3 separate regions of the Homo sapiens genome follow, and regions 1 and 2 are each linked to region 3. The links come from fine-mapping of genetic effects on gene expression. A gene starts in region 3. Each other region holds a variant in brackets. All regions are shown on one strand. Distances are from middle to middle.

What was found.
Region 1: its variant is fine-mapped to the expression of EXT2 in spleen (GTEx, PIP 0.95).
Region 2: its variant is fine-mapped to the expression of EXT2 in whole blood (TOPMed, PIP above 0.99).

The regions. Positions count from the first base shown.
Region 1 is chr11:44,257,165-44,259,922 of GRCh38, reverse strand. No RefSeq gene overlaps it. Among named protein-coding and RNA genes, the nearest start is that of ALX4, 52 kb to the left of the region's middle. The variant T/A (reference allele first, on the strand shown) is at 1,250.
Region 2 is chr11:44,071,400-44,074,157 of GRCh38, reverse strand. ACCS (1-aminocyclopropane-1-carboxylate synthase homolog (inactive)) reads right to left here. Exons shown (of 15, transcript NM_032592.4): 4 at 641-711. Among named protein-coding and RNA genes, the nearest start is that of ACCS, 6.5 kb to the right of the region's middle. The variant G/A (reference allele first, on the strand shown) is at 1,292.
Region 3 is chr11:44,094,318-44,097,069 of GRCh38, reverse strand. EXT2 (exostosin glycosyltransferase 2) reads right to left here and starts at 1,392. Exons shown (of 14, transcript NM_207122.2): 1 at 1,218-1,392. RefSeq lists an enhancer at 436-485 and a silencer at 906-1,525.

The DNA.
Region 1 (2,758 bases), 160 kb before region 3:
AGGAGAGGCGGGTCCCAGTTCTGGCTCTGCTACTGAGTGGGCAGGGGAACTGTCCTTCCAGGACATATGGCCAGACAACTTTTAAAGCAAACCTCTGAAGACAAATTATGAAGCAGAAGGAACCCAGGTTCTACTGTCGTATAGGTGTTTCCTTGCTTTCCAGCACGAAGGCGACTCAGGAAGAGGCAGTCAGCCTCCAAGGGACCACTGTGTGGACAGGGAGTCATTTTTGTTGACCAAACCAGCTGAGTCTAAGTTCTCACATCTGAAGGATAGAAACAAGCCCTGTCCCTGCTTAGCTTACCAATGGAGGGGGGAGGATTAAGTGGACAATGTCCATGCATGGGCTTTGTAAGCCGATGTGGCATAGTGACATAAGGGACAATGATTACTCCCAGAGAATGACATCTCCCTCCAGCTCCCAGCTGTGAGTCTGATAAAACAATAACAACAACAACAAGCTCCATTTTATCCTCTCTTTCCAACTATTTGGACATTGTTCTCTTGGAACCACATCTCAGATTTGATACCTGTGTCAGTGCATTCACATTCAGTATAGACCCAACTGGGTTTTAGGTTGACCTGGGCTGGGAGCTTGTTTTTTTAAAAAATGACACCTGTCCTATATTAGGGCTCAGGGTCATGGTAGCACTTGGACACTCCACACCAAATCACTGCCAAGTCACAGGGCAGGAATTGAAGCAGAGAGGGAGAAAAGCCATGTGCAAACCACATGCGAAACCACGGGGTGTTGTCTCTACCTCACACCCCTGCTTCTTCCTGTGGGAGCTGAGCACCCCCCAAATCCTTCAGAGTCCAGATGAGCACCACTGCTGAAGAGGAAGACTGGCCTGATGTGTGACTTAGGCATCACGGGGGATGCAGGTAGCCCACCCCTGGGACCTGTGCCTCCAAGTGGTCTCTGGGGAGAACAACGACAAGGCCAGGGCCAGCAGGGCCTCCTCTGACTGTGGACTACGGCTCAGCCCTTCACTGGGTCTGACCACCCAGCACAGCTTGTTGTTCCCCAAGCCATCTAGGCCTTTTCACCTGGCCACACCACTGGACTTGCTATCTCTTCTTAGAATGCCTCTATCTCCTCCCTAGATCCCCTCCAATGCACCCAGCCACTCTGCAGTGTATCCTCCAAATGATAGCACCCTCTGTGAAGCTCTTTCTTAAGCCCATGCCCTCACCTCAACTTCCACCCCTAGGTCAAAGGCTGCCCCTCTGGCCTCCACAAAACTGT[T/A]TGTGTCATAATACCATGATGGCACATGATACCGTATATCTATTTATCCATCTGACTTCCTCACATCCCAAAGAGGAGACAGGCTGTGTTCACATCCGAATGCCTGAGAGAATAAGAATGTTAGGTAATGTGCGAATGAGTGAATGAATGGGAAGGTGAGAATAAAGAGATGCTCTGTTTTGATTAAGGGTGGGAGGAGGGAGGTCAGAGGACACTCAGGGATTCGTTTTACAGACAGCTGGAAGCTGACTCAGCCCACTAGAGATCTTCCTGGAGTGTCAGAGCCTCTGCTTGACCATGAACCTCATCCACCCCATTCCTCCAGGGTTCACATGCATTCAAGATGAGCTGTGGCCACGGCAGTAAACCTGGCCTGTTTATTTAGTGTTGCCGGGGTTGGGACAGCACTGGTCAGCACCAGGCCAGCTCCCCAAGATGGCGCAAGAGGTCCTGTGTCCAAGAGTGCACATCTGGAAGCTTCTCGACTTGTCCCTGGGCTCAAAGCCCACTTTCTCCAGCATCCCTGGATAATCCTCATGCCCTTAAGCCCTCCACTCTCAACTCCAGCTTCAGCGACTGGCTGAAGACAGCTCCTTTCCTGCCTTGGTGCCAACCCCAGCAGAAACCACTCTTGCCTTCAGCTCATCACCAATCCCATTGTCCCAGGTCTTGCTACAGGCAACACAGCCAACCCCAGGGCTCCACAAGCTGGCTGGGCCATGTGACAGCAGAATCTTCAATCTGGCGAGCAGGGCGTGGAGTGGTGGTGGTACCTCTCCTTCCACAGGTCTAGACTTGCATGCTCAGCAGCTAAGGAACAATAGGCTCTCCACAAATAGCCAGTTCCCCAAAATAGGGCTGACGGCAAACTGTGTATGTGCACAAGTGAGAAGATGCAAGTTAGCGCCAGAAGACAATGGGGTGTGAGAGTTGAAATTTTCCCAGGAATTCTGTGTGATTCCAAACAGATTTTTTTTTAAGCTCAACAAAGACCAACAGGCTTGAGGAAGGGCAAACCTCCACAGGGAGCTTCAATTTATGAGCATGTGTACACCATGTGTTAAGGTGTTGCCTTAACTAGTTGGGAGAAAACCCACTGTACTGCCTGCATGAGATCTGCCCGGAACCCCAATCAGGATGTGGTTCTTAGATGTGCAGAGGACACAGTGTTCTTGCCTTGCCTCCTGGGATTTCTCTTTGGTTGCATCACAAGCCCCCTCTCCATCCCTTCTCTGTCCTCTACCCACAGCGTACCTCTGTAATTTCCAGGCGCTTCTGGAAAGGAAGGGGCTCCCTGTAGCTATGATAGTAGGGCCAAGCTACACCATGGGAAAGAATGAAAATAAATGAGAGTGTGTATGTGTGTGTGTGTGTGTGTGTTGAGAGGACAGGGGAAGGGGATAAAAGCCTAAGGAAGAATGAAACACAAGGCAAACCATAGCTCTTCTCCAAGATAGGTATGGACAGAAAGCACTGTCCAGTTGAAAGCATGGGAGAGCACTGGCCAGG
Region 2 (2,758 bases), 23 kb after region 3:
TAAGATTTAAAGGAATTAAGTCACTTGCTGGTAAGAGGCAAAGTCCACACTCAAGCCCAGTGGTCTGACTCCAGGGCCCACCACCCTGATTACTACACTAGAAGAACACGTGCTTTACAATCAGTCTTGGGATCAAGTCCTGCTCAGCCGCTGAGCCCTTAGAACAGTGTCCACAAGCAAGTGTTCAATAAGCACAAGCTATTAGTGTTATTTACCACCTCCCCTCTTAGCATTAGGAAAAGGCCCCAGCCAGCTCCCCGAACAGCAATTCTGGCTTCTCTAAAGCTACCATCAAAGCAAGGACAAAGACTTCTCACCTGAAGGCCCTCCCCATGCTTTAAACCCAGGTTCCCAGAAACCAGACTAGCGAGCTCCTGTGCTGAGGTGGGACTGGCAGGAGACCCCATAGTCGCCAGGTCTCCAGGACTAGGCCCTCAGCCTGCCACTACTGATGTTCGGGGCCAGGTCATTCTTCATTGTGGGGGCTGTCCTGTACATTGTAGAACTTTAGGCAGCATCCCTGACCTCTACACACTAAATGCCAGGAGCACCTGACTTCCCAGTTATAACAACCAAAAATGTCTCCCAACATTGCCACACATCCCCAGGGGGACAAACTCACCCTATGGCAACTACTTACAACAGATGTCCCCTCCAGTCAGCATACTGCAGCAGGGATGGCTCCACCCTCTGCATGTCGCGCTGACTCAGCTGGGGACAGAGAGGGAAGAGCACGGCTGAGGGCCAGCACTGCTACCAGCATCCACAGCACAGGGCAGGTAAAGCTGAACGCTTGTTCTGCTCATCAGAGAAACTGCGAGAGGGGCAGAGAGTGACAGCTTTCTCATACCCATGTTGCAGGTGAGGAAACTGAGGTCCAAAAAAGTGAGGTCACTCAGCCAAGGTCACAGAGCTAGCAAGTGGCAGAGCTGAGACAAAAACCCAAAATTTTTGACTCCTAGTCTGGCATTCTTTATACAACACTGCCACCTAAAAAAATCGGAGGGGTGGGTTTGCAAAAGTATTAACGGAAGAGCACACTGATCAGCATCTCCATGGGGTGATAGAAGATACTGAGAGCTAGAACCTCAGTCTTGGCTCCAACTTCTAGAGGGACTTAGGCCACTGTCTTCCTGCAAGCTCAGCTCAACCTCACACTTTAAAAAAAGTAGCAGTTTCTAGACCACCCATTCCATGACCAGTGCTAGGTTAGAAACTCCTAGTATTGTAGGTCCTTTGTCAAAGAAGGGCCAATGCAGGGGCCTTACGCACTGGGGCCAAAAGGAAGAAA[G/A]GGAATCAGCCACTTCTACATAACTGGGTCCAGCCTTTGCCCTCTCTCCCTTCCTCCCTTAGAGCCACACTGTCCAACATGGTAGCCACTGGCCACATGTGGCTAATGAACATTTGAAATGTGGTTCATCTGAATTAAGACACACTGGATTTTGAAAACTTGGTAGGAAAAAAGTATGTAAAATATATCATTAATAATTTTTGTACTGATGACATGCTAAAATGGTCATATTTTGAATATATTGGGCTAAATAAAATATATTATTAAAATTAGTTTTTACCTGGCATCTTTTTATTTTTTTTAATAGAAAATTTAAATTGATATATGTGGCTCACCTTTTATTTCAGTGCTTAGCTGCCTTAGAAGGAGGAGCTGGCTTTAGGTAAAACAGGCCTTTAAAATCTATTCCCTGGCCGGGTGCAGTGGCTCACGCCTGTAATCCTAGCACTTTGGGAGGCCAAGGCGGGCGAATCACAAGGTCAGGAGTTCGAGACCAGCCTGGCCAAAATGGTGAAACCCTGTCTCTACTAAAAATACAAAAATTAGCCGGGCATGGTGGTGTGTGCCTGTAATCCCAGCTACTCAGGAGGCTGTGGCAGGAGAATTGCTTGAACCCGGGAGGAGGGGGTTGTAGTGAGCTGAGATCACACCACTACACTCCAGCCTGGGCAACAGAGTAAGACTCCATCTTAAATAAATAAATAAATAAATAAATAAAATCTATTCCCTATAACCCCTTCCCCTTGGGGTTGAGATTTCTCCCTTTGGAAATATGTTCCTTTGGGTTAAGGATTGCTGTCTCTACAAACCCAAACTCTGCCACTGCCGCCTTGGGAGACACATTTATTAGGCATTGTCAGTGGTTGCTAAGATGGCTTACCACAGCTCAAGAAATCGGATTATAAAATTTTCAGAAATGTTGCAAGCTGTGTTAAAAACAGCCACTTTTAAAAAGCAAATTAATATAAACTGACAATGAAATACATTATCTTACAAACAAAGGTGATAAGCACTCAAACGTCACTGCTTCCTGATTTGCTAGTACCTTTTACTATCTATGTTTTTGAGGTCAGTTCTGTCTACATGTCTATATGGTGAAAATATTACATAAGTGTGCCCATGCAGCTCTCTTCCAACTCTGCCTGCAGTGATATCACATAAGGAGCTTGAAATCAGCCATGGTGGGAGTATTTACACTACGGAAATTGGCAAAACTACACATCAGGCTTTTTTTGTCCCCCTGAAGAGCTAATTGCTAAATACCTACACCACAAAGCACTGAGTGTTTCCCTCTGAGATCAGGGGACCCAACACAGCAGGAGGGACTGAGTGAAATAAGAGTCTACAGAGATGAAGAAATAGGACTACAGTGGGGAAGAAACTCACCTAAGATCACACAGAAAACTGTCCCAAGGTAGGCCTGGAACCCGGGTCTCCTGATTCCCAGGCCAGGGCCACTGAGCCAAG
Region 3 (2,752 bases):
CAACTGGAAATGCCAAAGCTAGGATTCACAGCATGGCAGTCTGGCCCCAAAACTGATTATCCATTCATACCCTCACATGCAACCAGGAAGTCGGGGAAAGTGAATGATGGAAACTGAATCATCTATTTTATTACAGTGAATAGCCTTTGAGTTCTGAAAGTTACAAACTAAGTCCAGTTAAAGTACATAGAGCACTTACCTGACTTACAAGAAGTTAAGACTTACAAGAATTTAAATGTACATATTTCAAGACCATATCTTCACATAAATAAGTCAAGAACCTTTCTAGATTAGCATTGCCCAATCAGTAACACCAAGCAATTCTTTGATTCTCAAAATTGTGTGTTTAGATCTGGTTCCCACCGAATGTAACAAAGCCCCAAACACCTCTGGACTTCAAGTTGAAGCCCAGAGCCAGTGTGCTTCTGGCCACCTAGTCCCGAGACTAACATGCCCCTGGCCCCGGCCCGACACACCCCCGGGCCACCTAGTCCCTGGCCTAACATGCCACCAGCAATCTAGTCCGCAGTCTAACATACTCCTGCCCCGTCCTGACAGGCCCCCGGCCACCCAGTCCCCTGCCTAACACGCCCCCAGCCACCTAGTGCCTGGCCCAACATGACCCCGGCCACCCAGTCCCCGGCCTAACACGCCCCCGGCCATCTAGTTCCCGGTCACCCAGTCCCCGGCCTAACACGCCCCCGACCACCCAGTCCCCGGCATAACATGCCCCTGGCCCCTTCCCTACCTCGTCCCACGGCTTCTGGCACCGCAAGGGATGCCGCAGGCCACCACCGGACCCTGAGGCGCAGGACATCCCCCTGGGAGGAATCAGATCCCTGTGGCTGGCGGGAAGGTGGCAGCAGGAAGGGAGGGGTCACGGCGGAGGGCGGAGGGCGGGTCGCAGGAGGAAAGGAAGGAGCGGACTGGGGGCGAAGGTTGGCTAGGAGAACAGGTGGGTACCAAGATGCTGAAAGCGCGGCCGCCGCCGGAGGAGAAGGAGAAGCAGGAGTGGAAATCGGAGCGCTCCAAAAGCGGGCAGTCATTGTCACAGCCCCGGCGGGGCTGGGGGTGGCCTCTCGCAGCCCACGGGCCTCCACGGAGCCTCCGCGCGGCCGCGCTCCCTCGGCCCTTGTCCCGACCCAGCAGCGGCCCCCGGAGGCCCGAGCCCTCGCTTCAGCGCCCGCCCGGCCGCCGCCCTGGAGAGCCGCGCTTACCTCGGCCACGGCTGCCTCCCGCTCGGCCCCGAGCTTGGTCACCGGCTCATGCCGCGGGGCGCGGGCCACCTCCGCCCAGGTCGGATCGGTCCGAATCGCCAGCCGCCACTGCCAGGGCCGAGTCTGGGCTGGCGAGCAGCGAGCGAGGGGCCGGTAACCGGGATCCGGGCCGTCTGACACCGAGCGCACTGCGCATGCGGGAGCTGCCGGGCCGCGCCTCCTGCTGGACAGGAGGAGTCCGAGCACCGCTGCAGTGTTTTCCCAGGCAGGCGCGCTCAGGCTCCGCAGTGAAATGCTCAGACAGCCTCATTCATAATTAAAGAATCCTTAAACCCAAACGAGACACCACGCGTTGCTTATAAAACTAACAAATATGTAGACGTTTTATTATAATCAGTTCTGGTGAGCGTATAACATTCCTGGAGGGCAATTTGGTACTATCCATCAAACGGAAAATGCTGGTACCCTTCATTCCAACAAGCTCTCTGTACGGAGTTTGCCCTATGGATATTCTCAACAATGTTTGTCAAAAAGTTCCATGACAGCATTCTTTCTAATCATAGCGAAATGCTAGACACAATCGAAATAAATTATGGAATTTGATTGATTTGAGTAATGTGAGATAGTGCAATATATTTGGGTAAGGAAATATCTCCAAGATATTAGTTAAGATCAAAGCGTAGTCCAAAACAGCGGGCAAGTCACTTTTAGGTAAACTATGCATATGCAAAAACAAGAGGGAGAAATATATAAAGTAGGTGCTTATATTCAGGCATGTGTATAACTTTTTTCTGGAAGGAATGCAAGAAGAAATGAACAGCTTCAGGTGGAGTAGTTGTCGAGGCGGAAATGGAAGCATTTATGGCGAGGAAAGGTGGCTCACGCCTGTAATTCCAGCATTTGGGGAGGCCTAAACGAGAGGATCGCTTGAGCCCAAGAGTTTGAGACCAGCCTGGGCAGCAGAGCAAGACCCCATCTCTACAAAAAATAAAAAGTTAACTAGGCATCGTAGCACACGCTTGTAGTCCCAACTACTTAGGAGGCAGAGGCAGGAAGATTGCTTGAGCCCAGGAGGTCAAGGCTGCAGTGGGCCGTGGTCGTGCCACTGCACTCCAGCCTGGGTGATAGAGCAAGACCCTGTCTCCAAAAAAAAAAAAAAAAAACGCATTTTTGTTTTGTATCTTTCTCTATTATTTACATGATTTAGCCCTATCCATGCACACTAAAACCGCTGTCATAAAGCAGTAAGTGGAAACTAAAAAATTAAATTAAAATTCAGAGCGATGTTATTGAGAGGTTAATGAAATGACCCCTGGGCCTGCGATGTTGGTTTGGTAGAGTTGTGGGTCTGGCTACAGGATCCAAATCCCTTCTGGTCCCAGATGTACTTTGGCGCCATCTGGTGGAAGTTGTCACTGATAGCTTAAATATTCAAAGTGATGATTCTGAGACTAGATACCTACAGAGGCTTCCGGCAGCAACCTCGATTCCAGGGATATTTTTGTGAGTTAATGCCTGCTTGTCACAGATCTAGG